Linked DNA regions of Homo sapiens: regions 2, 3, 4, 5 and 6 are each linked to region 1. The links come from fine-mapping of genetic effects on gene expression. A gene starts in region 1. Each other region holds a variant in brackets. All regions are shown on one strand. Distances are between the middles of the regions. Region 1 holds the start of ITGB4 (integrin subunit beta 4). Region 2 overlaps ITGB4 (integrin subunit beta 4). Region 3 overlaps RECQL5 (RecQ like helicase 5). Region 4 overlaps MYO15B (myosin XVB). Region 5 holds the start of SAP30BP-AS1 (SAP30BP antisense RNA 1). Region 6 overlaps RECQL5 (RecQ like helicase 5).

Evidence for each region. PIP is the estimated chance that this variant, and not a neighbour inherited with it, causes the effect.
Region 2: its variant is fine-mapped to the expression of ITGB4 in T cells (TOPMed, PIP 0.98).
Region 3: its variant is fine-mapped to the expression of ITGB4 in whole blood (TOPMed, PIP 0.98).
Region 4: its variant is fine-mapped to the expression of ITGB4 in whole blood (TOPMed, PIP 0.91).
Region 5: its variant is fine-mapped to the expression of ITGB4 in whole blood (TOPMed, PIP 0.98).
Region 6: its variant is fine-mapped to the expression of ITGB4 in whole blood (TOPMed, PIP 0.97).

Annotation. Positions count from the first base shown.
Region 1 is chr17:75,719,056-75,724,195 of GRCh38, reverse strand. It overlaps ITGB4 (integrin subunit beta 4), which reads right to left and starts at 2,737. Exons shown (of 40, transcript NM_000213.5): 1 at 2,584-2,737. RefSeq lists enhancers at 451-1,002, 1,917-2,455, 2,456-2,994 and silencers at 2,715-3,104, 3,115-3,174.
Region 2 is chr17:75,751,739-75,756,859 of GRCh38, reverse strand. It overlaps ITGB4 (integrin subunit beta 4), which reads right to left. Exons shown (of 40, transcript NM_000213.5): 31 at 4,504-4,686; 32 at 4,283-4,414; 33 at 2,886-3,095; 34 at 2,045-2,284; 35 at 1,010-1,159; 36 at 243-431; 37 at 1-156. It also overlaps a transcript of GALK1 not described here. Among named protein-coding and RNA genes, the nearest start is that of GALK1, 11 kb to the left of the region's middle. RefSeq lists silencers at 1,304-1,473, 2,681-3,290 and an enhancer at 2,320-3,093. The variant G/C (reference allele first, on the strand shown) is at 2,082.
Region 3 is chr17:75,628,006-75,633,005 of GRCh38, reverse strand. It overlaps RECQL5 (RecQ like helicase 5), which reads left to right. Exons shown (of 20, transcript NM_004259.7): 9 at 1,338-1,556; 10 at 1,757-1,856; 11 at 1,996-2,032; 12 at 2,169-2,227; 13 at 2,314-2,387; 14 at 2,729-2,822; 15 at 3,164-3,298; 16 at 3,531-4,072; 17 at 4,244-4,334; 18 at 4,564-4,788. Among named protein-coding and RNA genes, the nearest start is that of SMIM5, 2.9 kb to the left of the region's middle. RefSeq lists an enhancer at 1-500. The variant C/G (reference allele first, on the strand shown) is at 2,103.
Region 4 is chr17:75,603,941-75,608,940 of GRCh38, reverse strand. MYO15B (myosin XVB) reads right to left here. Exons shown (of 64, transcript NM_001395058.1): 20 at 3,320-3,437; 21 at 2,920-3,077. Among named protein-coding and RNA genes, the nearest start is that of MYO15B, 19 kb to the right of the region's middle. The variant T/C (reference allele first, on the strand shown) is at 2,526.
Region 5 is chr17:75,682,104-75,687,243 of GRCh38, reverse strand. All of the region lies in intron 3 of SAP30BP (SAP30 binding protein), which reads right to left. SAP30BP-AS1 (SAP30BP antisense RNA 1) reads left to right here and starts at 2,445. Exons shown (of 2, transcript NR_186496.1): 1 at 2,445-2,779; 2 at 3,466-3,701. The variant G/A (reference allele first, on the strand shown) is at 1,998.
Region 6 is chr17:75,651,571-75,656,570 of GRCh38, reverse strand. All of the region lies in intron 7 of RECQL5 (RecQ like helicase 5), which reads left to right. LOC107985013 (a long non-coding RNA gene) reads right to left here. Exons shown (of 3, transcript XR_001753017.1): 2 at 2,123-2,280. Among named protein-coding and RNA genes, the nearest start is that of ERLN, 7.8 kb to the right of the region's middle. The variant T/G (reference allele first, on the strand shown) is at 2,644.

The DNA of each region.
Region 1 (5,140 bases):
CTGGGGCTGGGCCACAGCTGCCCGCAGTGGCTTACTGCACCGGGTTGGGTTCTGCAGTGACTGCCCGGCCCATCAGGGTGGGGTCTGAATCATCTGCCCTCCCCTGTACCTCTGCCTGCCCCAGAGTTAAGTTTTCTGGGCCCCTGAGCTGTTCACCCTTTCACAAGTTAGCCCAGAGTGAGACATGCACACACACTGTGGCTCCCCTCAAGGCGTCCCCAGCGGCTGTGGGTTCAGTATTAAACCATCCTAAGTCCTCAGCGGCCTTCAGGGCAGGACTGGACATCCCTGAGGCCCTCTAAGAGATGCTCAGCCTGAAGCCTGGACAAGAAAAGAGGCTGGCGGCAGAGCCATCCAGGCCTGCAAGGCCGGGGCAAAGGTGAGCACCGCGCCTCTTTCTCTAGGGCCAGGTCTCCCAGGGGCCCAAGCCTCTGCCCTGCCCACGGGCCCTCCCCATTGAATCCTGTCTCAGCCCGGCTTCTGGGGCAGTGGCCACCCCAGGGTCTGGGGGCTGGGGTCCCCGAGGTGCTGGAGAAGCCCTTCTCAGGCCAAGGGCAGGAAGGCGTAGCCTGCTTCTAAGGCGTGCAGCCTGGAGGAGGCCACAGCAGCGCCAACACATGCAGGTCAGACCTGTTGTGGCACAGGGACTGGGAGGCAGCCCTGAGCCAGCAGGGAAAGGGTGGGGACAGCAGGGTTCCTAGAGGGAAATGACTTCCTTGCAGCCTCGGGGTGTAGCCGCCACACCCACATGCTACACAATACAGGCTGCAGGCTCAGGCCTCCCAGGCATCATTACACAGGCAGGTACAGGCCTGGAGAGCTGAGCCCAGCTCTTCCTCCCACTGTCCCTGGCCACAGCCCCTCAGGCAGTGCTGATTCCCACACTGTGACTGCCATATGAGCCCAGGGCTTCACGGAGGAGATTGCTCAGCACAGGAGCCCGGCGGGAGATGATTTCATTCTGCCCGTTTCCCAGATGAGAGACCAGGCACAGAAGGCTGTGGAACTTCCCCATCCCGCGGACAGCACTGGGAGGGCCAGGACAGGGCCCTGCTCTGCAGGCCCTGCCTTTAACCTCCATGGCAGCCTCCACGCAGAAGCTACAAAATGGCAGTTAGAGGGTTGGCGAGGCACCCAAGAGTGTTTGGCTTCATTTGTTTAGAAAGTTTTAAAAGTAGGAGCCAATGTTAGAAACAACGAGATTTCCCATAAAAGTTAGGAATTTGTGTTTATCATTAGATGTATCACGATGGGCTGGGCCCAGCGCTCAGGACACCTACTCTCCAGGCGGCCCGGACCCCACCAGGCTGCCCCGACTTTATGTACCAGCAGGTCCCTGGAGTGTGTGACTGCCACCCTGAATGCCATCACACTGCAGCACAGGCAGTTTCCCCCCCACAGGGACACACACACACACACACACACACACACACACACAGGCCATGCCCACCCACCCACAGGCTCAGAGCTCCCCTGGCCCCCATCCCAACCCCTGGGGACCCCTCTGGGCACACCTGCTCCTGTCCACTATCCTCTCCCGCTGTCACATCTCCTCCCCTCAGGGACCCAGGCCCTTCCTCGCCCCAGAGAGGCAGCTGGCCAGAAGTCTGGGGACCCCAGGCCCTTGGCTGTTCTGTCTCCCTGAGAAATCAGGGTCGAGTAGACAGACATACCTCCCCTCCTGTCCCTCCTGCTGTCCTTCCCTCAGCCCCCAGGATGGAGACTCCAAGCCTTCACTGCCAGCTCTGTTTCGGACAGCAACAACCATGCCACCTGTGCCTGGTCCTTGTCCTCAGGGTGTGGCAAGGCCATGGGGGCAGAGGAGAAGCCCTGTCCCTGCTCCTGGGAGTCACCAGGAGCCCCAGAGCCCCAGTCCCAGCCAGAGGGCCACCCCAGAGGCTGAGCCATGGGAAAGAGGGCGGATGCTGCAGGAGGTGGCAGTGTTGGGCACAGCCCTGGGGCTGGTGGGTGAGGCCTGTAGAGCTTCCTGAAGGAAGGCGCCTGGGGCTGACTTTGGGAGGAAGGCAGGCCTGTGCTTGGCCAAGAGAAAAGGAAAATCAGGGACTCCCCAGCCCCAGATGGACTGTGGCACCGCATAGAGCAAGCCCTGCCTGGAGCCGGGATGGCGTCTGCCTCTCAGGGTGGCTTTTAAAAGTAGGAGCCAATGTTAGAAAGAACGAAATTTCACATAAAAGTCAGGAATGTTGGTTTATCATTAGATGCGCCATGATGGGCTGGGCCCAGCACTCAGGCTGGTGTCTACTCCACCTTCTTTGCAAACCCTGGAGGGGCCCAGCCCCAGAGGGCTACCAGCCACTGGCCTCTGCCCACTTCTCCCGCAGGCGCACCCAAGGCGCTCCTCTGGCCTGGAGGTCTGATGGGCACCACCCTTCTCTAGCTGCCCTGCCCCTTGGCTGCCAGCTGCCCCCGGCGCACCCCGGGGAGGCTGGGCACCTGTCCTGCGCAGCGTGGACAGAGGGACCGGGGCCTGTCAGCCTTCAGGGAGGGGAAGGGGAGACAAAAGCCACCGGCCCTGCCCGACCAGCTCCCCTGCGCGGCTGCCCAGCTGGGGCGGGCACTCACCCTCTCCCGGCCAGCCTCGGCTGCTGCTGTGCGCCCGTCCTGGACCTACCTCGGGGCGGACTCGCTCCCTCCGCGCCTGGGCTGCCGCTAGGAGATGGGGCTGCAGCGCGCGGGCGAGCAGGGACTGTCCGAGGGCGGGCGCGGGGGTTGGGGGGGTGGGGACGAGGCGGGCAGCGCTTTATGGGGCGGGCGCGCAGGTAGGAAGGAGGCGCTGGTGAGTCAGACCGGCTGCATTCCTTCGCGCGGCGCGCACCTGTCGGGGCAGGAGCTGGGTGCCGCCGCCGGAGCCGGGTCCGCCCCCCGGAAAGGGCTGCGGCTCCCGCGGCGCCCGCCCAGCGCCCCGATCGGCTAGCGGCGGGGGCCGGGGGAGGAGCCACCGCTCTCCCTCTCCCTCCGGTCCGGCCCTGGGCGCGGGGCCTCCCCACCCCTCCAGGCTCCGGGCTCCAGGCTCGGGTGCGCGGACTGCCCCGGGCTGGAGGCGGCCTCTTAGCCCCCGTCCGCACGGGAACCCTCCCTGCCCCGACTCTGGGCCGCTAGCCAACGCCGGGCTGTGCTGCTGCTGCTGCCCCGACGGTCGTCAGCCGCGTACCCCCCTCCCCGCTCTCCGTGCCAGCGCGAGGCATGGGCCCAGGGAGTGCCCCCGGCCCGGTCGGGAGGCCTGACTCCCCGTCCCAGCTCTGCTCTGCAGTTCACGGGGTCCTCTCAGCCTCCAACCCCTAACCTCACGTTGTATCCAGAGGGAGAGCCGAGGAAGGGTCGGGTCCTCGGTGCACCCTTCAACAAGCTACTTAAATCTCCTTACAGTGTGAACAGTGATACCCTGGAGAGGTCAGTGCCGACCTGGCATGGATTGGCACTCGATGCCTTGTTACAGTTGTTCTTAACAAGCTGGTTACAGAGCTGGCCCCTCCCTCCCGTCAGTCCTCTGAGAGCAGTCTCTCCATTGCCACTGCTTACCACGGGTGTTCAGGTCAGAGAAGGGCTTCATTTTTCTTTTTCTTTTTGTTTTCTCTCTCTTTTTTTTTTTAGATGGAGTCTCACTCTGTCGCCGAGGCTGGAGTGCAGTGGTGCAATCTTGGCTCACTGCAACCTCTGCCTCCCGGGTTCAAGCGCTTCTCCTGCCTGTTTCCCGAGTAGCTGGGATTACAGGTGCCCGCCACCACGCCCGGCTAATTTTTGTATTTTTAGTACATCATGTTGGCCAGGCTGGTCTCGAACTCCTGACCTCAGGTGATCCACCCGTCTTGGCCTTCCAAAGTGCTGGGATTATAGGCGTGAACCACCATGCCCAGCCAGGGCTCCATTTTTCTCTAGGCTTACTGGCCAGCAATGCCAAACAACACCAGACTGCTGGCACAGCACTGTCCAAACCATGCGGTTTCAAGCCACCGTGCTTTTTCAACAGGCTGGTCCCTTCCCATGACATTGAGCCCAGTTTATCCTTCTTGTCCTTGAAGACGTTGCACCAACCACGTGCTAGAGAGCCTTCCTTGACCTCTCCACACCCCAAGTTGGTTTATGTGTCCCCATAACCCTTGGGCCATGGCTTTTACATGGCATTTGCCACATTGGTTTGAAATGATGTTTAGGAATCTCGCCACACTGTTGGACTGTGACTCCAAGGGCAGCTACTCTCTAGCACCTAGCACCATGCCTGGTGCATAGCAGGTGCTCAATAAAAGGGTGGTTGAGTGAATGGGATGGTCACACAGCCTCCCTGAGCCTCCATGCTGTCATCTGTAAACAGATTCCTCCACTGCTACCTCTCAGAGTGATTGCAGGGGTGCTGGTTGCAAATGTGTGAGTCGCCACCTTTCCTGGTCATCTGAGAGCTGTTCTGCACAGAGAAAGTGTTCAGAGAGGCTTGCTCCTGGATTTGGGAACAATGTGGAAGGAGTCCCAGTTTGGTTGAAGCACTCAGATCTGTGTGTGTCAGGCCAGCACAAGTGCCCTGTGGACCTGAGTCACTCCAGCAGGTACCTATCCACCCCAAAAAACAGAAACATGGAGCAGGAGCTCAGAGAACGGCCAAAAACAGCTTGCCTGAGGGGCCTGGGTCTGCCAGCAGCACCCATTAGAGAACTAGGGGGTCATATACACCCCACTGTGGGTGGGGGCTGAGGCTTCTTCCTAGAGAAGACCCAGGTCCAGAGCTGGCGATGCCCCAGGCCACTGGGCTCAGCAGCCCCTTCCTCTCTTCATTGCAAACCCTTCTGAAAATGACTAGGGGGCCTGGAGCCCTGTAGCAGCTGAGAGGCGAGATGTCAACCCAGGGAGGTCTCACTAAGTAAGATAAGCCATGAGCTTCCTTGGCTTCTCGGAGTCCTGGGGTTCATTACCTGGAGCCCGCATGTGGACTTGGCAGTGGGGAGTCCCTGAACCATCTCAGATCTTGTGCAAACTTTGAGGAGTATCTGATTTCAGAATGTGGGTTTGCTGGGAGGGGAGCCTTAGCTTACACTGGATTCCCAAATAGGTTACTGGCCCCAGAAGTTTAAATATTGCATGTGATTTTTTTTGTTGTTGTCATTGAGATGGAGTCTTACTCTATTGCCCA
Region 2 (5,121 bases), 33 kb before region 1:
CTCCTCCTTGGGCCATCTCACAGGTCACCAGGTAGCCGACGATATCCCCATTGGGCCTCCGTGGCCGCTCCCAGCTCAGCTGCAGCGAGTCTGGGCTCAGGGCAGTGAACACCAGCGGGCCTGGGGCACTGGGAGTGCTCAAAGTGAAGGCGGAGCCTGGGGGCAGTAGAGGAAGAGCATCAGCCTGTGGGTGGGTGGTGGGCATGATGGGGGCAGCTCTGGGGCTGGGGGAGGCAACTCACCTGGCAGGGGACACAGTGGGCTCTGCGGGTGCACCTGGGATTCAATGGTGATGACACCCTCACGCTCTCGGCCCCAGCCTTCCTGGCTCTGGGCCCGCACGCGGAACACGTAGGAGTGGTTGGGCAGGAGGTCTTCCACCACCACCGAGGTCTGGGCAGGGTTGGGGATGTTGAGCCGATGCAGCTCACCTGGGGGGATCAGGTGGGGGCACACAGTAGTGCAGTGTTACTCCCACCCCTGGCCTGATCCTCCTCGTCCCTAAGCTGCCATCGAGACCTAGTTATCACCCACCCAGGACTAGCTGTGGTTTGGGTACAGGTTGGGTACAGTATGGTATGGCTGGTTGTTCAGATTGTGTACTATACAAGAGTGGAGCCTGTAATCCCACTCATGTTTAGGCAACATCCTGCATCCTGGTCATGCTGCTTTGAATGTGCCTGCCCAGGGAAGTGCCACTTCCTTGTTCCCCCAAAGGCATCTCAGGCCAGCAGAGGCCCTAGGATCCCAGCCCAAAGGGGCCTTGTTAGGCAAAACCTAGCAGAGAATGACCAGGAGAGAGGCCCAGGGAGGTGGGTGAGACCTCAGAAGAGGGGAGGCAAAGAAGTGGGGTGGAGAATGGGGTGGGAGACCCTCTCAGGCTGGATGGGGGCTTTAGCGCTCAAGGGACTTGGGTGGGTTCCTGACACAGCTGAGGTACCCTATGTGTCACACTGGGGCCAGGCCTTGCAGGGCTGCACCCCGCAGCCTGGCAGCCACCATGCCTCACCGCCGTTCAGCAGCTGGTACTCCACACTGTAGCCCTGCAGCGGCCGCTCGCACCGCGGCTCCTGCCAGCTCACTCTGAGAGATGTGGGCCCCAGGGCAGAGAACACCAGGCGGGTGGGCGTGTCGGGCACACCAGCAGTCAGGCGAGAGTCTGGGGACAGGAGGCCGCAGTCAGCCAGAGATGCAGGGGCTAGGGTCTCAGTGGGAGTCACAGTGCTGCCCCCTGACCTCCCTCCCTCAGCTGGCATGTCTACACTGACCGCTGGCTGGACAACTCACTCACCCTGCAACACCCTGTCCAGGCTGCCCAGCACCTACCGCACATCCTCCAGCAGGGTGCAGGCCCTGCTTGTGCCAAAAGAGAGTGAGCCCCGTGAGTCTGCCAGCCCCACCCCCTCAACTGCTCAGCTGGCCTGGCCCCTCTCCTGCCCCAGCCCCAGCCCCGCCCCCTGGGAGGGCAGAGGCAGAGTTAGGCATCAGCACTGATGGTAGGGCAGGTGGTTAGCGCCTGTGGGCAGGCGGGGGTCCTGTGGATGGAATGGAGGGGAAGCAGTGGGCACAGCTGGCGGCTGCTATGGTGGCTGGATGACAGATGGAGCAGGACAGCTGTGGAGACAGGATGGCCACCCCTGTACTACCTGGGCCCCAGGAGGGCGCTGCTGGCCTCCCAGCCAGGATTATAGAGTCTCGTGGGCCCCTGGAAGGGGGGAACCCTTTCATCTGAGCCCGACTCCGGGACCCCAGGGCCCAGGACAGCGGAAGCCTGCTCCTCCCGTGTTCCCAGATGGGAGGGAGGCCTAGGGCAGGACAAAACAAGAGTGAGAGGAGCAGGGAGTGTGCATGCATGTGTGTACGTGTGCGCATGCATGTCTGTGTACATGTGTGCATGCGTGTGCACGTGTGTGCGTGCATGTGTGCATGCGTGTGTGTATGTTGGAGAATGGGCGGTGGGGACAGCAGACAGAAGCCCGAGGCTCCAGGAGCTGGAAGAGAGGAAGGGTTAGTGGGAGAGGCAGGGTTGGCTGAGGTCACTCACCGTGGGAGGAGACGGAGGTGAGGGTGGAGTAGTCCCT[G/C]GGCAGTGTGGTCGAGTGTGAGTGTTCTGAGCGGGTCAGTGAGTTGTAGTCCCGTGTGAGGGTGGAGGATGTGCTTAGCACGCGGTGGGGCACGTGTGGGCTCAGGTGGGTGCCATAGGCAGCAGCACTGGTCGTGGTCATCCTGTGCAGGGAGTTGGTGCTGCCCGGGAAGGCAAAGTCCATCCGGCCATTCACCAGGTGCTCTGCAGGGGGAGAGCAGGGTCCCTTGGTCAGGCCTGCCCCAGACCCGGGCCCCGTGGGGCAGGCTGGGCCCTGCACATTCCTGGTCACCCACCCTCTGGGTGGCTTTTGCTTAAATACAACCAGTTTCCCTCAAACCACTAGGGACAGAGGCCCTCTGTCCCTGCAGGAGCCCAAGGGCCACCCAGGCTTCCACAGCCCATATCCTCTGGCCGGCCACTCTATCGGTGTGAGCACTGCTGACCCTGGCAGTGGCGGGGGTTTGCTGCGTCTGCAGTCAGCTCTGCCCTGGGGAGATCCCCAAGCCTTCCCTCCTGTCCTTTGAGGCCCCTGAGGGGTCTACTTGGGTGCCAGGGTCCGCTTCCCGGGCAGACTTCTGAATTTGCACCCCCTGGCCAGGCAGGCACCATAAGGGCCCAAGCGCCTGCCTCACGCGTCCCCTGGCACTGGGCCCTGCCTCTGAGCAGCTGTGCTCCCAGCCGCCAAGGCCCGGGCCTGGCTGAAACTGGGGCCCCCGAGGCAGCGCAGACGCCCACCCCAGGCCCTCAGGCGCGAGTGAGGCTGGGTGGGCGCGGATCGGGGGGCGGCGGGTGAGCCTGTCACCTCCGGGGGGCCCGGGTGTCGCACTGCGGGGCAGGCTGCCGCCCTTCCCGCCCGCGCCGCCGTCGTCCGGGGGCCCGTGGGGCGCCTCGGCGTCGGAGGAGCGCCCGCTGCTGGCCGACAGGCGCGGGATGAGCTCCGGGGGCAGCCGCCACGTGACGCGCCGCAGGTCCAGCTCCTCCCCCAGCAGGGGCTCGAACTTCCAGCCGCAGCCTTGGGAACAACGAAGGGCCGCGTTGGCACCGCCGGGGGGCGCCGGGCCGAGCAGGGCCAGGCGGGGGAAGGCCGTAGGCTCTGCGAGGGGAGCCCGTCTCCAGCTCCCGGGATCCCGGGGTGTGTGTTGGGGGCGGGGGTAGATGCGCACGGCCGGAGCGGGAAGGCCGCGGCAGGTGAAACCCTTGCGCGGCTGAAGCCTTTCCAGATGAGCGAGTGCAGCCTCGGCACAGCTGGGGAGGAGAGACCCCCGGACCCGCCAGAAACCTGGGGGAAGTCTGGGCTCTGTCACCAGCTGTGAGGTCTCCCTTGCTTTACTTAACCTCTCCGAGACTCAGTTTCCCGTTTGTACAATGGAGAGAGGAATCTTGCCCCTGCCCGCCTCCCAGGGACCGTTCCGCAAGCCACCGAGCGCTTCGCAGGTAGTGTTAGAAGCAGCTGAGCTGGGGTTCCAGAGTCACACCAGCTGCGCTCCACCTGAACCCCTCAAAATGGCTCCTTAAGCCCAAGCTGAGCCCCGTGGGGGCCAGTATGTGTTCACCGGGGGCAGCTTGAGGCATCGGCAGGGACAGAAGAAAATACAAAAGATATACGTGCCCCAGAGGTTTTTCCACTCATGGTACTGTGTGATTGGTATCCCATTATACAGAGCAGAAAAGTGAGGCATGGAAAGGATGAGTGATTCATCTGATGTCCCACAGGTGGAGCCACAGCTGACACTGAGCACTCAGGAGGCCCAGCTAAGGGCTCCGCAGCACTTTGTGCTGGGAATCAAGGAGGAAGGACAGAGCTGTTGGGGGTGTTCTTGTCTCCTTGGCTCCCCTACCCCTGCCAGGTGGCCGCCTGGTGGCTGCCCAGGGCTCCTGGGCCAGGCCTGCCCCTGGGGGGTGGCCTGAGTGTCCTGTGTGCATGGCACAGCTGGTGAACCTTCAACTTGTGAAGCTGTGTTTCTTCGTGGTCCCGTGGGCATGAACTCATGTGCGCTTGCACAAGGCTGTGTGTGTCTGTCCCCCAGGCACTGGTTCCTGTGCCCCATGCACAGATGTGCACTCCATTGCATTTGTCCAAGGCTGCCTTAACCTCCATGTCCTCTAGTTGCTGGCCCCTTTGCCCTCTCTGGACCCAGTGGACTCACTCTGTACCCAAGACCCCCACTGTCCTCTTGTGGGTCCCAGGTCTCCACTCACCAGTGTCATCGGAGACGCTGGGCCTCTGGCTGCCCGATGGAGAGCGTAGAACGTCATCGCTGTACATAAGGAAGCTGTCGTAGTCCTCCCCGCTCTGGGCGTCCACGATAGGGATGTCAGGGATGATGGGGACTGCAGGGCAGGGGAGTGAGCCAGGGCCCTGGCTGCTGCCCCCTGCCCCCCTGCCCGGTCTGCCCCTCACCTCCCTGCCCACCACTCACTGGACATGGGCCTCTTGGGCTGGGTGGCCAGGTTGATGATGGCCTCCCGCTCAGGCCCCCAGCCGGCCCCGTTGCGCGCCTTCACCGTGTAGCGGTAGGGCTGGGACTCCCGAAGGTTCTCAATAAGCAGCATCCGGTTCTTAGGGTTGTCAACCAGCACTTTCTTCATGGGCCCAATAGGTCCTGGGGCAGAGAGAGTGCTTCAGAGGGTCACCCAGGTCCCAGCCTGGTCCCAACACCACCCCTGACACAGCAGGACGGCCGTGCATCCCCTGGATGGCACCCAGGGGCTGGGGAAGCAAGGCAAAGCCAGCCACTGCTGAATTGCCGCCTGCGGAGCCCTGAGCGTCAGCATGACTGGCGTGGACATATGTCACCAGTCCTCCAAGGGACTCTGCTGAGTAAGTGGCAGAGCCAGGGCTGGACTCAAGTTGGCCTCGATGTCACCTCTACCCATATATCCACGGTGCCTCCACACAAGGCAAGGGCACGCATAGGGGTTGCCCACCCTGCCTCCCTTCCAGGACTGGAGAAATAACTGTTCTGCTAGGCACCTCTGATCTCGGGCTGCTAGATAAAATAATGTATAAAATAATCCTTTTTATTTATTTATTTTTA
Region 3 (5,000 bases), 91 kb after region 1:
ACCGGGGTGTTGCAATCAGCCTTGCATCCTTGAGCCTGCGCCTTGGGGTCGCAGCCCCTCAAAGGGCTTCTTGCAGCCGCAGCAGTGCTCACACTGGGAGGAGTTCTAGTTAGAGCAGTTAATGCCAGCTATTCTTGTCCCTGGGATGTGGCACCCCAGACAGCCCTGCCTGTGTTCCAGCATCTCCTCTTGGGCTTCCCTACCCTGTGCCACGTTCCTGGTGGCAGGAATGGCTGTTTATAAGGAGCCTGAGAGAGCTATGGCCCCTCTTGCGGCCTCTGCAGCTGCCCCAAGGGTCGACAGCCACCCCCATGCAGAGGGAACAGAGATGCGACAGAGCCTCGTGGGCCAGCCAGAGGCTGCTCCCTGCTCCCAGCATGGGCAGAGGCCGCTCACCCCAGGAGGGCTGCAGCAGGGTTGAGACAGAGGAAGACGAGAGGAGGACTCCAGGCGAGGCTGCGTCTCCCTGGCTAAAGGCCCCACCTGTGACACCCTCACGGGTTGATGATGGGACATATTACTACACAGCCGTGCCTGCCTTAGCAATGCAAATACGTTTTGAGAAATTTAACTTGTCATTGTGCGGTCACAGAGTATACTTAGGGAAATCAAACAGCAATTCCAGGGAAGAGAAGGAAAAAAATATCAAGCGGCACAGCCTCCTACACACCCAGGCCATGCGCTACAGCTTGTTGCTCCTAGACCACAAACCTGTACATCACGTTACTGTCCTGAGTACCGTATGCAGTTGTAACACAGTGGTATTCACATATCTAAGCACACATAAGCATAGAAAAAGTACAGTAGAAATACAGTGTTAGAATCGTAGGGGACCACCATTGGCTGTGCAGTCATTCCATGGGGCATGACTGTACTGTAATGCACTTCAGACATCACCTCAGCCATCTTCGCTCAGTCCGTGAGGGCTGTGCCTTTCTGCACCATCTTACTGACGGGAATGCATGGGCTTTAGGAGGTGAAGTGTGTCACCCAAAAGACACCCTTCATGGCAGAGCCAGCATCTACATCCCATTGCCAGAGGACAGAGGGGAGGAGCAGAGGAGTAACTGGACAGAGTGGGGTTCACATCCTGCTTCCCGGGAGACCCCCATGTGTTACGTGACCTTGGGAAAGTTGGTTCACCTTATCGTCCTCATCTGTGTAGTGGGGAGAGCCAAACGATGCCTGGTGCAGCTTGGATGAGATGAGGGGTGTGGGGCTCCCGGCATGGTGCCGGACGCGGCAGTGCTCGCTCAGCTAGCGATTCAGGCTCGGGTGAACAGACGCTGGCCGACTGGGCTCTCCGCCCCTCACCTCTGCGGTGCTGCCTGCTCCAGGTGCCGCCATGCCGCCATTGCCAAGTACTTCGGGGATGCGCTGCCTGCCTGCGCCAAAGGCTGCGACCACTGCCAGAACCCCACGGCCGTGCGGAGGCGGCTGGAGGCCTTGGAGCGCAGCAGCAGCTGGAGCAAGACCTGCATCGGGCCCTCCCAGGGGAACGGCTTTGACCCCGAGCTGTATGAGGGAGGCCGCAAGGGCTACGGGGACTTCAGCAGGTAAGGGGCCGAGAAGCCAGGGCTCCAACCCGCTGGAATTGCCTGGCATTCCCTTGGCGCCAGGGCCAGACCAGAGGTGGCACGATGCCGCAATCCCCCCTTGAGCTGGTAGGACATCAGGGACATTGCCGTTCTAGCAGCAGCACACATGGGGAGGGCAGAGCCCAGGCCAGGGCCACTCACGCCTGGCCTGTCCCTAGGTATGACGAAGGTTCTGGAGGCAGCGGGGATGAAGGCAGAGATGAGGCCCACAAGCGGGAGTGGAACCTCTTCTATCAGAAGCAGATGCAGCTGCGCAAGGTGAGGGGAGGCACTCAGTGGCCTGTGTGGGGCCCCTGGTGGCCCCCTGCTCGCACCTCTCAGCCCCTTCTCTGGTGCTGGATGGGACTGTCCTGCGGCAGGGCAGGACGCCTCATGGGTCCTTCATGTTGTCCTCCAGGGCAAAGACCCCAAGATAGAAGAATTTGTACCCCCAGGTCAGTACAGAAATGTTCCTGGAGGCTTGTGGGCTCTTCCCGGGGCATGGAGGGAGGATTCTCATCCGGG[C/G]TGTGGGGGACCTCAGAGCGCAGAAGGTGGAGCGAAAGGACCAAGGACCACCCCCCCCCCCCACAGATGAGAACTGTCCCCTGAAAGAGGCTTCTAGCAGGAGGATCCCCAGGCTGACTGTGAAGGTAAGAGACGGGCAGCTCCTCAGCCACCCGCCGGGGCCCTCCCCCAGCCGCGAGGCCATGCGACCAGTCTCACTGTCCTGTGCCAGGCACGGGAGCACTGCCTGCGGCTTCTGGAGGAGGCGCTGAGCAGCAACCGCCAGTCAACACGTACCGCTGATGAGTGAGTTCCACGATCACTGGGCTGAGGAGCACTCCAAGCTCTCGTTCCCTTGGAGACTGCAGGACCCTGTCAACCCTGGCCTGTTTGGGCCACCTCTCCCCAGATTGTACCTCTCCTACTCCAGGGGACTGCCCCTACAACCCCACCAGGGCCAGGCATGGCTACAACTTAGGTGCTACCAGCAGCTGCTGAGGGACAGTAAGCCACAGGGTGCTCAGAGAGCCCTAATCAGAATCCCTGTGCCCAAGGCCTACCCCACCAGGCCTGGAGTCCCGCAAGAGCTCAGCAGGGAGAAGCCCAGGCCCACCTGATACCTTGTGCCTGTTACCTTGCACCCACAGAGCTGACCTCCGGGCCAAGGCCGTGGAGCTGGAACATGAGACATTCCGGAACGCCAAGGTGGCCAACCTCTACAAGGCCAGCGTGCTGAAGAAGGTGGGCCTGGTGCAGGCGGACCCAGGGTCGTTGCAGGGGCCCCTCCATACTCTGACGCAGAAGCTGTCTGCCAGCTCTCTGGGCTCAGGCAGCCCAGAACTCACCCTCCCCAGCCCACCCCAGAGACAGTTTATGGGGGTAGAGCTCCATTCTCCACTGGCTGGACATGTTTCTAGCCAACCCTGTGAGGATGGGAGGCCTAAAACTTGCCCAGTGGTCAGTTGCCTGTGGCCACTGGCCACAGAAACCCACTTGTAGTGCCTAGTAGAAAAGGAGGGCTAGGTGGGGCATGTCAGGAGGAGCTGGCGGGTGCCACAGCCTCCCTGCCTATCCCTGCCCAGGTGGCCGATATCCACAGAGCCTCCAAGGATGGGCAGCCCTATGACATGGGAGGCAGTGCCAAGAGCTGCAGTGCCCAAGCTGAGCCCCCGGAGCCCAATGAGTATGACATTCCACCAGCCTCCCATGTGTACTCGGTGAGCTGTGGCCCAGTGGCCTCCAGACCTGTGACCAGGAAAGGCTTCACTTCCCCTCTGCCCTCAGGGGTGCACCTCTTGCCAAGGCCTGGCTCCCCACCAGGGTCCTGCCTGCCTCTTCCCTCCCACACTCCTGAGAGCCCCGTCCCAATGTGAGTTACTGCTCCAGCCAGCGGTGCCCTCAAGGGGGCCTAGTGGGCTGAACCTCCTCTCCTCCTGCTCACATTTACAGCTCAAACCCAAGCGGGTGGGAGCTGGTTTCCCCAAAGGCTCCTGCCCGTTCCAGACGGCCACGGAACTGATGGAGACAACTCGGATCAGGGAGCAAGCCCCCCAGCCCGAGCGGGGAGGCGAGCACGAGCCCCCGAGCCGGCCCTGTGGCCTCCTGGATGAGGATGGGAGTGAGCCCCTCCCTGGGCCCAGAGGGGAGGTCCCTGGAGGCAGCGCTCACTATGGGGGGCCCTCCCCTGAGAAGAAGGCAAAAAGTTCCTCTGGGGGCAGCTCCCTTGCCAAGGGCCGGGCTAGCAAGAAACAGCAGCTCCTAGCCACAGCGGCCCACAAGGATTCTCAGAGCATCGCCCGCTTCTTCTGCCGAAGGGTGGAAAGCCCAGCTCTGCTGGCATCAGCCCCAGAGGCAGAAGGTGCCTGCCCCTCCTGTGAGGGGGTTCAGGGACCCCCGATGGCCCCAGAGAAGTACACAGGGGAGGAAGATGGAGCCGGGGGACATTCGCCTGCCCCTCCCCAGACTGAGGAGTGCCTCAGGGAGAGGCCAAGGTAAGGGTACAGGTAGTCATAGAATCTTCTGGAACCTACACGGCAGCATCCCCTTTGCTCACTGGGCGTCTGAAGCTCAGAGCTCACCCCTGAGATGGGCTCTCCTAGGCCTCCTGGGATGAGGGAGCCACCAGGACCCAGTGCTGTGATGCCTGCTCTTCCCTCTACCAGCACCTGCCCGCCCAGAGACCAGGGCACCCCTGAAGTCCAGCCCACCCCTGCAAAGGACACATGGAAGGGCAAGCGGCCTCGATCCCAGCAGGTGCCGGCAGGGATGAGTCTGTTGGGGAGGAGAGAAGGGCTGTGGGCGAGGCCAGGAGCTGTTGTGCCCTGCTCAAGGGGTCAGGGAAAATCAGCTTTCTTTCCACACCTGGCAGCAGATGGGCTGGGCTGGAGAGAGGCAGCTGGTGCGGGGACCCAGTCTTCTGGAGGAGGGGAGCAGGCCAGTGGAAGGGAGCTCAGGAGTGACCCTCTGCTGTGGCCCTTCTCAGGAGAACCCAGAGAGCCAGCCTCAGAAGAGGCCACGCCCCTCAGCCAAGCCCTCCGTCGTAGCTGAGGTCAAGGGCAGCGTCTCGGCCAGCGAACAGGGCACCTTGAATCCCACGGCTCAAGACCCCTTCCAGCTCTCCGCTCCTGGCGTCTCCTTGAAGGAGGCTGCAAATGTTGTGGTCAAGTGCCTCACCCCTTTCTACAAGGAGGGCAAGTTTGCTTCCAAGGTAGGGGGAGTGAGTGGGCTCTGCCTTCTCCCATGCCTGGGGTATGTGGGTGTAGTGGGGGTGGGAGGCAGGGAGTTTGAGCCCCAGAACACAGTGGGCCTAGGGCCAGCCCCACGCCCGTCCTCCCTGGGGCCTGCCTTGCCGTTGGGTCATGGCCGTGGGTTGCTCTGGGGGTCAGGGCAGGGTCCTGCTCTCTTTTTTTTTTTTTTTTA
Region 4 (5,000 bases), 120 kb after region 1:
CCAACATAGTGAAACTCTGTCTCTACTAAAAATACAAAAATTAGCTGAGCATGGTGGCAGGTGCCTGTAGTCCCAGCTACTTCATAGGCTGAGGCAGGAGAATCGCTTGAACCCAGGAGGCGGAGGTTGTATTGAGCTGAGACCAAGCCATTGCACTCCAGCCTGGGCAACAGAGCGAGACTCCATCTCAAAAGAAAAACAACAACAACAACAAAATTAGCCGGGCTTGGTGGCCTATGCCCGTAATCCCAGCTACTCCAGAGGCTGAGGCACGAAATCACTTGAAACCAGTAGCTGGAGGTTGCAGTGAGCTGAGATCATGCTGCTGCTGGAGTGCAATGGCGCGATCTCGGCTCACTTGAATCTCCGCCTCCCAGGTTCAAGTGATTCTCGTGCCTCAGCCTCCTGAGGAGCTGGGATTACAGGTGTGACCCAGCTGCACTCCAACTTGGATGATATAGCAAGACTCTGTCTCAAAAAAATTTTTTTAATAAAAAATAATAATTATAAAAAATAAAGGCCGGGTGCAGTGGCTCATGCCTGTAATCCCAGTACTTTGGGAGGCTGATCACCTGAGGTGGATCACCTGAGGTCAGGAGTTCGAGACCAGCCTGGCCAACATAGTAAAACCCCATCTCCACTAAAAACACAAAAATTAACTGGGCATGGTGGCAGGTGCCTGTAATCCCAGCTACTCGGGAGGCTGAGGCAGGAGAATGGCTTGAATCCAGGGGGCAGAGGTTGCAGTGAGCTGAGATGGCGCCACTGCACTCCAGCCTGGGTGACAGAGCGAGATTCTGTCTCAAAAATTAATTAATTAATTAAAAACTAAAAACGGGCAGAGGAGAAACAGACATTTCTCCAAAGGAGTGGCACTAATGTCTGAGATGCTCAACGTCATTAGTCCTAGAGAAATGCACATCAAAGCCATAATGAGATGCCACTTCACACCCACTAGCAGGGCTATGATTTTAAAAATGGAAAAGAATAAGTACTGGCAAGGATGTAGAGAAACTGGAACCCTTGTACATTGCTGGTAGAAACATAAAATGATGCAGCCACTATGGAAAGCAATTTGGCAGCTCCTCAGAAAGTTAAACATAGAATTACCATATGATAGAATTACCAGCACTTTCACTCCTTGGCCTATACCCCAAAGATTTGTAAACAGACTAGAACAGGCCGGGTGCAGTGGCTCACGCCTGTAATCCCAGCACTTTGAGAGGCTGAGGCGGGTGGATCGACTCAGAAGACAGGAGTTCAAGACCAGCCTGGCCAACATGGTGAAACCCCGTCTCTACTGAAAATATGAAAAATTAGCCGGGCGTGGTGGCGGGTGGTGGGTGCCTGTAATCCCAGTTACTCAGGAGACTGAGGCAGGAGAATTGCTTGAACCTGGCAGGCAGAGGTTGCAGTGAGCCGAGATCGAGCCACTGCATTCCAGCCTGGGCAACAGAGCAAGACTCCATCTCAAATAATAATAATAATAATAATAATAATAATAATAATTAATTATTAACCCTCAAGCCTGGAACTGAATGAATTTCTGACACATGCTACAACATGGATGAACTTTGAAACATTATGTTAAGTGAAAGAAGCCAGTCGTAAAAGGAAATATTGTATGAGTCAACTTACAGGAAGTATCTAGAATGGGCAACTTCATAGAGACTCAAGTAGACTGAAAGTTACCAGGGGCTGGGGGTCTTGGGGGCAATAGTTACTGCTTAATGGGTCCAGAGTTTCTGTTTGCGGGATGAAAACGTGTTGGAAATAGATAGTGGAGATGCCTGGCTCCCCCGATGTTCTGCACTGTCTTCACTTCATTCTCAGCCCTCGAGTTACTCTCTGGGAAGATCACTGGCTGCTCTACCATCTGAATCTGACTTCCCAACCAGCCTGGGAGGCCCCGTCTCTGGCATCCCCAGCTCTGTCACCAGCATCTGGCCCAAGGGTAGATGAGGCAGACGGTCAGCCAACAGCTGTTGGAGGAATGTGTGAAGACAGGCTGTGAGGGCGAAAAAGAGATGATTAGGTGAGAAGTGGGAGGGTGGTGTTATAGGAAAGAGAAGTCTAAAGTCACTGCAGGGTAAAAGTCTGGCCTAAATTGGGCTGGGGAGGTAGTCAGGTCCTTAACAACATGATTCATGCTTTGAAAAGATGACTGTAGCTGGGCACGGTGGCTCACACCTGTAATCCCAGCATTTTGGGAGGCTGAGGCGGGCGGATCACCTGAGGTCGGGAGTTCGAGACCAGCCTGACCAACATGGAGAAACCCCGTCTCTACTAAAAATACAAAATTAGCCAGGCGTGGTGGCATATGCCTGTAATCCCAGCTACTCAGGAGGCTGAGGCAGGAGAATCACTTGAACCTGTTAGGTGGAGGTTGCAGTGACCCGAGATCGCACCATTACACTCCAGCCTGGGCAACAAGAGTGAAACTCCATCTCAAAAAAAAATTAGCTGAGTGTGGTGGCACAAGCCTGTAATCCCAGCTACTCGGGAGGCTGAGGCAGGCGAATCAC[T/C]TGAACCCAGGGGGCAGAGGTTGCAGTGAGCTGAGATCGCGCCACTGCACTCCAGCCTGGGTAACAAGAGCAAAACTCCAACTCAAAAAAAAAAACAAAGATTGTTCCCACAGTGTGGAAAACAGACCAGAAAAGAGAATGATAAAGGAGTCAGGACCACAGGTTCAGGTGGCCTCAGTAGGTAATGAGTTTCTTGTGGCCGGGGTATTCAAGCAGAGGCTGCACGGGTATGGGGGGTAATGCCGTCAAGGAGAGTCACATGCCGATGAGATGGCACTGGGGCAGGATGACTTGCCTTGAGGCCCTATGTTTCCCCAACCCTGCCCCACCACCTGGAGGACGAACCCACGGCCTCACCCCACCCACTTCAGCCCTGGCTCCAACGCCTGCAGACCTGGCCTGGAACCCACGCATGCGAGCCTGCATCCGGGGCAGGACGCGCTGGCGGGAGATGCAGGTGTGGAAGCTGCGGTGCAGGTCGACCAGGGCCTGGGAGCGCTGCTGGTCCCGGAGCTCCTCCAGCCGCTGCCAGCCCTGCTCCTGCAGCAGGACCTGTGGGTAGAGGGGTGGGCTGTAGGCAGGAGCCAGGAGCCAGCCCCTCCTGCTCTCCTCCTCTGGTCTCAGCCTCCTCCCTTCCAGCCAAACCATTTGTTCTTCTGGCCCTGCCGTCCAGCCCTTCTGTCTCCCACCACTTGGATGGATCCCCAAATCCTGGGTTTGTCCCTTTGGGCCCAGAATGCACCTCTCCTTTCCCATTCATGCTGCCCTCTGCACACAGGGATACACACACCCACCTTGGTGGCTCCAAGGTGATAGAGAGGTGATTCGGCCCCCAGCACCTGGCTCAGGACGGCACCACACTTCTCCCGGTCAGAGAGGTCTTCCTGCCCTTCTGACCCCAGGGCCTGGAAGCTGCTCCAAGGATGGAGCTGAGATCAGAATAGCCAGAACCTCCTTTTACACTTTTTTTTTTTTTTTTAAGACGGAGTCTCGCTCTTTTGCCCAGGCGGGAGTACAGTGGCGCGATCTCGGCTCACTGCAAGCTCCGCCTCCCGGGTTCAGGCCATTCCCCTGCCTCAGCCTCCCTAGTAGCTGGGACTACAGGTGCCCGCCACCGCACCCGGCTAATTTTTTGTATTTTTAGTAGAGACAGGGTTTCACCGTGTTAGCCAGGATGGTCTCGATCTCCTGACCTCGTGATCTGCCCGCCTCGGCCTCCCAAAGTGCTGGGATTACAGGCGTGAGCCACTGCGCCCGGCCTTTTTGGTTTTTTTTTTTGAGACAGAGTTTCATTCTCATTGTCCAGGCTGGAGTGCAATGGTGCAATCTCAGCTCACCACAATCTCCACCTCCCAGGTTCAAGTGATCCTCTTGCCTCAGCCTCCCGAGTAGCTGGGATTACTGGCATGCAACACCACGCCCAGCTGATTTTGTATTTTTAGTAGAGACGGGGTTTCTCTATATTGGTCAGCTGGTCTCAATCTCCTGACCTCAGGTGATCTGCCTGCCTTGGCCTCCCAAAGTGCTGGGATTACAGGCGTGAGCCACTGCACCCAAGCCCTTTCACACTTGCTGTACGACACCCTGAGCCCCTCAGTATTTATTTCATTTCTAGATCATTAAAAAATTTGGAAAGTGCCTGCTCTATGCCAGGCGCTCAGCTGGGGGCTGAGACACTGCAGTGAACTTGGGCAGGGAGGGTCTCTGCGCTGGAGCTCAGGGGGAGAACAGGTGAACATGGTGTGCGCAGGAGGCATGAGGGCTGGTTCTGGGCCACGGGAGCAACAGGAATGTGGTTCCCAAGGCCTTCGTCTCCTCGCCACCCAACACAGTAGGTCTCAAGACAAGTTTGTGGGAGGGAGGGAGGGAGGGGTGTGGAAGGGAGGGGCATGGAAGGGAGGGAGGGGCGTGGGAGGGAGGGACGTGGAAGGGAGGGAGGGGCGTGGCAGGAAGGGGTGGGTGGGGGAGTGTTGAAGGACATTTCACAGGTCCAGATGGTGGTACCAGTTTGGCTTAATGGACACTCAGTAGTTAGTCTGTACCAAGCAAGCACCGTGCAGGTTCTGGGGATGTGGGTGACAGTCTGTGGTCACGGGATGCCACAGTGCATCAGGGAATGGCACAGATCAGCAGACCTGGTCTGTGCTGGGTGGAGAGTTGTACCTGGAGGTTCCTCTCACCCAGCTTCCGGGCTCAGGGGTTCTTGTTGGAGGTGACAATTGCTGTAGCTGGTAGGTTTCCAGATGGCAGAGACAGAACGTGCCCCGCCCTGGAGCTTCTCAGGATCTGACTCAAGGCTGGGAACACCCATCCCTACTGCCTGCCTTTTGCTCAGTCCCCCAACCAGGCCATCCCCATTGCCAAGGCCATCACAGGCTAAGGAGGTCCACAGAGCCCTGGGGTGAGGCTGCTGCTCCTAGTAGCTGCCCCCTCCCTTCTGAGGCAGCCACCAGCCCAGCTCAGCTGGACATCAAC
Region 5 (5,140 bases), 37 kb after region 1:
AGATAATTTATTGAGCATGATTTATACACCAAGCAATGGGCCAAGCATTGAGGATAAAATATGAAAACTCAATCTAGGGGAATAAGTTTAGGTATTATGCTAAGCTCTTCAATTAAGAATCTCATTTTTCACAACAGTCCCATGAAACTGTGCTCTTAACCATCAGGCAATACAGCTGCTTCAGAACAACTGCTATGCCATCCTCCAGAAACCCTCTTGTGGAGGCATCAAAGTAATAGTCAAAACAAGGTTTTCTGAGATCAATGTGAGTCACTTCAGGTTGCCAAGAAAGCAACAATGCTGGATTACCTTTATAAAATACCTCCAAGTTCCAGAATAAAATGATGTTGGTTTGACAGAGACATGGTTGGGGGCTAGGAGTGAGAGCTGTCAACAGCTCAGCAAAGCCTCCAAACCCAATGCTGCATGGGAACATCCCACCCCAGAGGCCAGATGCCAGCCACCCCCACTGGAGAGCCCTGGAGAAAGCCCATTGCTAGCACATTTCCTTTAGTTGTATCCTGTCGGCCAGGACTGAGCCACTGCCGTGGGCACACTGCCTGCCTGGGAATGGAAACACTCAATTTATCAGAAAAATGGGCGGAAGTTGGTGGGGCCCTCTGGGACACGCTGGGGTTGCCTTTGCTTAGACCACTTGCTGATGGGAAGGCTCTGCTCCCAACCACAGAAGGTTTCTTTTTTTCTTTCTTTTTTTTTTTCTTTTTCCTGAGATGGAGTCCCGCTCTGTTGCCCAGGCTGGAGTGCAGTGGCGCAATCTCGGCTCACTGCAAGCTCCGCCTCCAGGGTTCACGCCATTCTCCTTCCTCAACCTCCAGAGTAGCTGGGACTATAGGCGCCCGCCACCACGCCTGGCTAATTTTTGTATTTTTAGTAGAGACGGGGTTTCACCTCGTTAGCCAGGATGGTCTCGATCTCCTGACCTCGTGATCTGCCTGCCTCAGCCTCCCAAAGTGCTGAGATTACAGGCGTGAGCCACTGCGCCCGGCCCCAACCACAGAAGGTTTCTATAGGAATGGGTGAAACAGGAGTTTGCCAAGACTTATTAAGCCGGCTATAGAATTGGCCTTGTAGACTGAAGACAAGGTAGGGAGGAGGAAGGGAAACAGTTTCTCTATTTGAAAAATCTGGCTAAATTTACAAAGCCCACGTGACTCAGCACGGCTCCTGATGTTGTTACATGGAACATGTTACAACCAACTAGACTTCAATGTAAATGCAGGGAGCTATTTCCAAGGGGGACTTTTGTTATCCGACTATTCCAAGTACAATCTACATTTGATTCAAGACACTTCAAGATTTTTGGTTTCTTGAAAGTTACAGAAGATGGTCAGAGAGGGCCATTCCCTTTTTGTCTTATCCCCAGAGTGTCAGGAACGGGTGTATCTAGGTCCAGAGTTTGCCTCACACCAAGGATCTGAGTCAAGCTCTTGGTGGTGAGGCCAGGACAGGCTTTTTCCCTTCAAGGCTTCCCACAAGAACAGTATCTCTGTGCTTTAGGTTGATATATTTGGGGGGTTGGGGGGAGCCTGGAGACAGACAAGGACAAAAGAGACAGCTTTGTGAGGTTGAGAATGCAAGTCTGGAAGGCACACAACTCTACATGGCTACCAAATTACAAAAGCATTCCATCTGAGAGGCTGGCCGACAAGCTGAGGAGTTAGTTACATCAACATCTCAGGCAAATATACTCGCAGTCCCTGAAAGTCAGGGTGACAGAAATGCAAACTGGTCATCATCGACACCGGTAGGAAGGGGACTGAGTTACTTAGAGGGCCAAAAAGAAGGCAAGCATCTTTGAAGCACAGCCCAGAAAATATTTACCTAACTCCAAAGTTAGGAATAGAAATGAGCAAAATCCTATTGAACCCAGAAATCACACAGCAGCATTTCAGGAGACATGGATGAAAATACAGAACGAAGGTCGGAAGTGCTGGATCCCTAAGGACAGGCAGTCCTCTGTATCATATAATTTCAAA[G/A]AAATGAGTCCCAGATGGGGAAGGAGGGGCCCAGCCACACCTCAGTTAGCAATCCATGGCATCTGGCCCGAAGGGAAGGAGGTATGTTGGGGCTTGCACGGCTGATGGGAGGGTGTACCAGACACGCGGTGGCTCCCTGTGGGCTGTGGAACCACAGGAGTGAGGTGGGGCTTCTGGGAGTCTCAGCTTCAGGTTACTTGGATCAACTGCCATCAAGAAGGCCCCTCTGGCAGTGCAATGGAGCCAAGGAGGGGTCAGAGGGAGAATAATGGTCATTGTTCCCCTTTGCATGAGATCACAACTTCCAACAACTACCAGCGCTTCTACCAGCAGTGTTCAGCTTATGATGTAGTGAGGCCTTCCTTGGAAGGTGGCAGGACAAAGCCAAAGCAGGCTTGGATTTCCTTCCCTTGCGACAATTGAAGAGTGACTTTCATGGCCTGCCTGCCTTTCTGACTCCTGCTCAGATCCGGTTATCACCCAGCAGGCCCCTAGAACCCCCAGAACCCTAGACCTCAGGCTGGGGTAGGTTCTTCCCAGCACAGCCACTCCACGAGCTTCTGGAAATTCCATGTCTCCCAGCTGTGCAAGGCAACCCTAGTGTTGTTGAGGAAAAGCCTAAAGAAGACCATCCATCGTGTTGAGCGCAGGGAAGTGCCGAATGCTACGTAGGCTTGGGCATTCTCAATAGTTCAAGGCCCACATTACAACTTCCAAGAGAAGGGTGGTGGATGGCTCACAAACCAGCAATGGTCAAGGGCCATTTCCTTCTCTGGTCCTGGGTGAGTCATACTGTAATTTTGTTCCCTTCTAATCAGCACTCAAAAGATTACAGGGTATGGGAGATAGAACACAGGGGCAGGTGGACTAATAAAACAGGATGGAAGGATGAAGCATATACTCTCCCACTCACATAGCACCCCACATGACACCCTAAACGTAGAACCCACTACAAGCTAACCTACACTATTCAAGTCTCACAATAACCCTATGAGGTAGACATTATTATTTCCATTTTGCACACGAGTAAACTGAGGTAAAACACAATGAAGCAGCTCACCCAATAAATGGCAATGTTGAAATTCAAGGCCAAATCTGTTTGGCTCAAAAGCCCAGTTATCCAGTTATTCCCAACTTCCCACCTTCTCCCTCTAGACTAAGAGGCTGCAAAGGGTAGCGGTTTCTAGGAAGCTGTTGGTTCAACCACTGGGTAAGCCAACAGTGAAGACCAAGAAGGAAAAGCACCCCTCCAGGAATGATTCTCTAGCAGGTCAGAGTGAAGCAGGTATTAAAACCCTGGACTTAAGGGAAGACAGCCAGAATTATTATCTTTCACCTATGACGATCAGGGGAAACAGCTCTAGAGTCCATGGGGCCCCAGTGAGTCACATCTGAGTTAACTTGTTTGAAAGGGTTGGTCCTGCAGGCTTAATCACACAAACCGTGGGTGCTACCTCCCTGTCCTTAGCCTAGAGACTTCCTGGGGACTCACAGAAAAAATGCTACCAAATCCTGAACTCTACCCAGCTCTTCTCCCTTCCTGGGGGAACAACCATGTGGACTTCCAATAAGAACACGAGCTTAAAGAACGAGTTATTCCTTCTGACCCAAGTAAAGCACATGGCCCATTTCCTGTTCACCAGAGAACTTCATTAGAGGGAAACTGCAGACATAGCATTCAATTATAAAAACCTATTCAGATTTTGCTAGTGTAACGTGCTTATTTCTGGATTTAACTTATATAGCTGAAGAAAATATGAGAATGAGGGAAATGATGTGAAAATCTGTGGGGCTAAGGACTGGTGTCACTACTAGAACAAAAGTTGGTAGATCTCAATGGGTTTTTAAAAAAATCTCCATTTGGAATATTTAAAAAATTATTATTATTATTATTATTTTTTACCAAGCACCATGGTTCATGCTTGTAATCCCAGCACTTTGGGAGGCTGAGGCAGGCAGATCATTTGAGGTCAGGAGTCCGAGACCAGCTTGGCCAACATGGTGAAATCCCAGCTCTACTAAAAAAAATACAAAAATTGGCCAGGCGTGGTGGTGTGCACCTGTAGTCCCAGCTATTGGGGAGGCTGAGGCAGAAGAATTGCTTGAACCCCAGGAGGGAGGTTGCAGTGAGCTGAGATCGCACCACTGCACTCCAGCCTGGGCGACAGAGTGAGACTCTGTCTCAAAAAAAATAAATAAATAAATAAATAAAATAAATTTTTCTTACAGCAGCTTTATTGAGATATAACTCCTATACCATACAATTCTTTTTTTTTTTTTTTTTTGAGACGAAGTCTCACCGTGTCACCAGGCTAGAGTGCAGTGGCGTGATCTCAGCTCACCGCAACCTCCGACTCCCTGCTTCAAGTGATTCTCCTGCCTCAGCCTCCTGAGTAGCTGGGATTACAGGCACGTGCCACCATGTCTGGCTAATTTTTGTATTTTTAGTAGAGATGGGGGTTTCACTATGTTGGCCAGGATGGTCTTGATATCCTGACCTCGTGATTCGCCCGCCTTGGCCTCCCAAAGTGCTGGGATTACAGGCATGAGCCACTGCGCCCAGCCTCATATGCCATACAATTCTTCAGTGTTTGTTTTTAACTGTTCATTTGTGTCATATTGCTATTATAATTATACAGTACAGCAACATTGAAAATGTTTATATATAGATAGAGACAAAGCTGGATGCAAAACATATGTTATTATAGGCAAACATAAAAGAAGAATAAAAATGGCTGTATGAGGCCGGGTGCAGTGGCTTGCACCCGTAATCCCAGCTCACGCTTGTAATCCCAGCACTTTGGGAGGCCGAGGCAGGTGTATCACCTGAGGTCAGGAGTTCAAGACCAGCCTGACCAACATGGAGAAACCCCATCTCTACTGAAAAATACAAAATTAGCCGGGTGTGGTGGTGCACACCTGTAATCCCAGCTACTCGAGAGGCTGAGGCAGGAGAATCGCTTGAACCAAGGAGGTGGAGACTGCAGTGAGCTGAGATCACGCCACTGCACTCCAGCCTGGGCAACAAGAGTGAAACTCCGTCTCAAAAAAAAAAAAATGGTCGTATGGTTAGCATCATGAGATTAGGTGATTTTTTTTCCTTTTGCAAAATACTCAATCTTGCTACAATAATTTGACAAAAA
Region 6 (5,000 bases), 68 kb after region 1:
AGATCAGTAGCTTTTCTCTAGTCAGATGAGAGCCAAGGAAAAAAAAAATCAGTAGCTTTTCTCCACATTACCATAAATACCTAGAAATAGAAACAAAAAAAAAACTTAATTTACAACAATAAAACTTATAAAATACTTAGGAATAAGTGTTACAAGCTGTTAACACGAGTTTTTTTCAAAAAGCTCCCCAGTAGGCTGGGTGCGGTGGCTCACGCCTGTAATCCCAGCACTTTGGGAGGCTGAGGCGGGCAGATCACCTGAGGTCGGGAGTTTGAGACCAGCCTGACCAACATGGAGAAACCCCGTCTCTACTAAAAAAATGCAAAATTAGCCAGGTGTGGTGGCGCATGCCTGTAATCCCAGCTACTTGGAAGAGGCTGAAGCAGGAGAATGACTTGAACCCACGAGGTGGAGGTTGTGGTGAGCCGAGATCGCGCCATTGCATTCCAGCCTGGGCAACAAGAGTGAAAGTCGGTCTCAAAATAAACCAAAAAAAGCTCCCCAGTTGCTTTGAATATATGGCCAGGGTTGACAACCACTGATTTAGATGAAGAAAACTAAAATCTCACCAAGAGAAAACAAGCTCTGGGGCCAGGAGCAGTGGCTCTTGCCTGTAATCCCAGCACTTTGGGAGGCCAAGGCAGGCAGATCACCTGAGGTTAGGAGTTCAGGACCATCCGGCCCAACATAGTGAAGCCCGTCTCTAACAAAAAAAATACAAAAATTAGCCAAGCATGGTGGCACACACCTGTAGTCCCAGCTACTGGGAAGGCTGAGGTGGGAGAATCACTTGAACCTAGGAGGTTGAGGTTGCGGTAAGCTGAGATCATACCATGGAGTGGAGGACGCACTCCAGCCTGGGCGACAAAGTGAGACCCTGTCTCAAAATAAAAATAAAAATTAAAAAGGCCAGGTGCGGTGGCTCACGCCTGTAATCCCAGCACTTTGGGAGGACGAGGTGGGCAGATCACGAGGTCAGGAGATCAAGACCATCCTGGCTAACATGGTGAAACCCCATCTCTATTAAAAATACAAAAATATTAGCTGGGCGTCGTGGCGGGCGCCTGTAGTCCCAGCTACTCGGGAGGCTGAGGCAGGAGAATGGCATGAACCCGGAAGGCGGAGCTTGCAGTGAGCCCAGATTGCACCACTGCACTCCAGCCTGGGTGATAGAGCGAGACTCTGTCTCAAAAAAAAAAAGGCCAGGCGCAGGGGCTCATGCTTGTAATCCCAGCACTTTGGGAGGCCAAGGCGAGCGGATCACTTGAGGCCAGTAGTTCGAGACCAGCCGGCCAACATGGTGAAACCCCGTCTCTACTAAAAATACAAAAATTAGCCGCGCGTGGTGGCGGGCTCCTGTAATCCCAGTTACTCGGGAGGCTGAAGTAGGAAAATCGCTTGAACAAAGGATATGAAAAGCAAATAATATGAAAAGAAAGTTCCCAGAAAAATTTATCAAATGACATGTTTAAAAATGTTAGGCTGGGTGAGGTGGCTCATGCTTGTAATCCCAACACTTCGGGAGAATGACATGGGAGGATCTCTTGAGGCCAGGAGTTTGAGTAGTTTGGGCAATGTAACAAGACTTTATCTCTACAAAATATTTAAAAATTAGCTGGGTGTAGTGGTATGCACCTGTAGTTCCAGCTACGCAAGAGGCTGAGGTGGGAGGATCACTTGAGTCCAGGAGGTCAAGGCTGCAGTGAGCTGAGATCATACCATTGCACTCCAACCTGGGTAACAGAGTGAGACCCTGTTTCAAAAACTAATAATAATAAAAAAAATTAGCTGAGCATGGTGATGTGCGCCTGTAGTTCTAGCTACTCAGGATGCTGAGCTGGGAGGATTGCTTGAGCCTAGGAATTCAAGGCTGCAGTGAGTTATGATCATGCCACTGCACTCCAGACTGGGTGACAGAGCAAGACTCTGTCTCCAAAAAAATAAATAAATAAACAAATAAAAATGCAATGCTGTATGTGGAAACTTGAAGGAAAAAAAAGACATCTTCAGATAACAAAGGTTTCAAAAACTTTCCCCTGGTATGTCATGTCTCAGAAGCTATTAAAGGATGTTCTCCATTGTAGAGAGGCAGTAAACCTAGAAAGCAAAGATGGAAACTTACCCAGGAGTAAGTCTTGGCACAGGACAATATTGGAGAGTAGTCCGGAAAGACAGCTGTGTCCCAGGCCTAGGGAAAACTGGTCCAGATTGCACTAGGGGGCAGAAGACTCCAGGAAGGAAGGTTCTAAACATCAAAGTGGAAGCTGGCATCTCTGGCTCCTATCGAAATGAATTGTTCATTATGTTAGGACAGTTAGGGGTGAATTAATAACATACTGAAATCTAAGTAAATGGAGAAAAACAAAGCTATTTCAGGGGAAACACAGTTACACAAGAAAGGAAATGTGATCACAGGAAATATAAAAATGCAATCACTTCGGTTTAGCTGTGAACTCTGTTGACATAGTCATAATAAGGAAAATATGGATTTAATAAGAAATTGTGTTGTAAACATATTGGGAAGTTGGGGGTACAGAATCTGTGTGTATTTGTGTGTATTGGTGGGGATGAGTTACCTGCCCAAAGCAGAAACTCAATAGATGATGTCTCAGATATCAGTGTCTGGTTTTTGTTTTTTTGGGG[T/G]TTTTTTTTTGTTTTGTTTTGTTTTGTTTTGTTTTTCAGACAGTCTTTGTCGTGCAGGCTGGAGTGCAGTGGTGCAATCTCAGCTCACTGCATTCTCCATCTCCCAGGTTCAAGCAATTTTCATGCCTCAGCCCCCCAAGTAACTGGGATTACAGGCGCCCACCACCACGCCTGGCTAATTTTTGTATTTTTAGTAGAGACAGGTTTCACCACATTGGCCAGGCTGGTCTCGAACTCCTGACCTCAAGTGATCCACCTACCTCAGCCTCCCAAAGTTCTGGGATTACAGGCATAAGCCACCATGCCCGGGCTCTTTTTTTCCTTTTCTGTATTAAATAATTCACAGTATTTTAAAAGGATATGTTGGCAAATAGACATGTACACAAAAAAGGCCGCTGATGAATAATCACATCACTCACAAATGCTCAGTATTCTGCTAGTTGATTCAGCCACAAGTCCATAGACAGGCTTATAACAGAGTGAAGCCAGGAACGGTCTCTGAGCAGAGCTGCACCAGAGCTTCGGTCACTAAGAGGGGAATTACCTCCAGGAATGGGCAAGGAAGGAAGTTGGCTGCCATCTTTAGAGTTCCACTGCCCTGACCAGGTGTCCACATTTGAAATGTATAGTGCCCATTCCTTACCTAATAGTGGTTCCTGGCCCAAGGTGAGCCTGTACTTTGAATTGGATAAGGGTGCAGAGGTCTTCCTGGTGGGAAGGCCTGGAGCTGTTGTTGCTCAGCTGTGGGGACCACCTGCTATTGCCCTACTCCCCTCTAGTGGGAGCCAAAGGGAAGGCTGGCTGATGAGTGTCTGCGGATTGAGGATGTGGCAGGGACTGGTGCCCCCACCTCCCTCCGCCCCACCACCAAAGATGGGGCTCTGCCTGCTGTGTGCCTGTCACCAGCAACCGGCAGTCATGCCTTGGGTTTCCCAGGTGGAGAGGTGGCAGGCAACATTTTAAAAAGAAAACAGGAAACTATATTGTGTGGGGGAGGCAGGAGTGGAGATGAGAAAACAGTTTGGATTTTGTGAGAGGGGCTTTGGGGGAGTTTGGTAGTTGTTGGTAACTTAAGTGCTTTTTCTTCCTTTTAAGTTAGTTGCAGGCTTTGGTTTGGAAAGCCCCAGGGAAGTGGGGTGGGGGACAGAAACCTGAGGCTCTTGCCCCTTTATCTGCCTTCACAGTACCATCTCCTTCCCCCAGCTTTACCCTGCGCTCAGGAGCCAGGCCTCAGCGCTTCCTGCTATCCACTTCCCATAAGCCACTCCTCTGATATTAGTCCATAGCCAAAGGAGCTGTGGGTCCAGGCCTGGTGACCAGCCCAGCTCAGCCCGCTCATTCAGGGTGCTCCCTACCTGCAGGCAGGAGGCAACACCCTGTCTGCTACCATTAGCACCTTCCAGAGCCCACCTCCCCTGCCCAGCCGTACCCTGCTCTGCCCCATCTGGGATGCTGTGCTCAGGCATGAGCTGGCAGGGCCGCACACAGCCTCCCTGGTAAGTAGAGACTCAGGAAACCTTTGGGGTCCTCCTGTTTTCTGGTTGTGTGATCCAAGTGGTGCACACTGGCCCCTTGGGTGCCAACTGAAGGGCTTGGGAATCTTGCTCTCCTGGTGTAGCTGGCAGCTGCCCACCCCCACCCCACATGGGTTTCTGAGTCGGCAGGTCAAGCATTATTTTATTTTATTTTATTATTTTATTTGAGATGGAGTCTTGCTCTGTTGCCCAGGCTGGAGTGCAGTGCCACGATCTCAGCTCACTGCAGCCTCTGCCTCCCGGGTTCAAGTGATTCTCCTGCCTCAGCCTCCTGAGTACCTGGGATCACAGACATGCACCACCATGCCTGGCTAATTTTTGTATTTTTAGTAGAGATGGAGTTTCAACATGTTGGCAAGGCCGGTCTCGAACTCTTGACCCCAGGTGATCCGCCCACCTCAGTCTCCCAAAGTGCTGGGATTACAGGTTTTAAATTGTATTTTAAATTCATGTTTTAAGCTTATCAAGAAGAGTCACTTAACCTTTTAATATATCTCCCTCCAATATACACAGAAGTATATGTGTTCATATTTGTTAAGTTCACAACATTTGTGCGTGTATTTACTATTATTAAAATAGGTGATATTATATAGCGCTTCCTAAATGCCAGTCTGTGGGCCCTTTGCATGAGAACCTCCTGAGAAGCTTTTCGGAAACTCTCAAAAGCTCATCCCAGAAAATTCAGTTCAGTAGTCTGGGGGTTATGATACATAGTCAGGTTTGGGGACACTTTTGTAAATGGCTTTATTACTGTCATTTAATATTTTTCTCCCTTGTTACTTTTTTTTGTTTTTGAGACGGAGTGCAGTGGCATGATCTCAG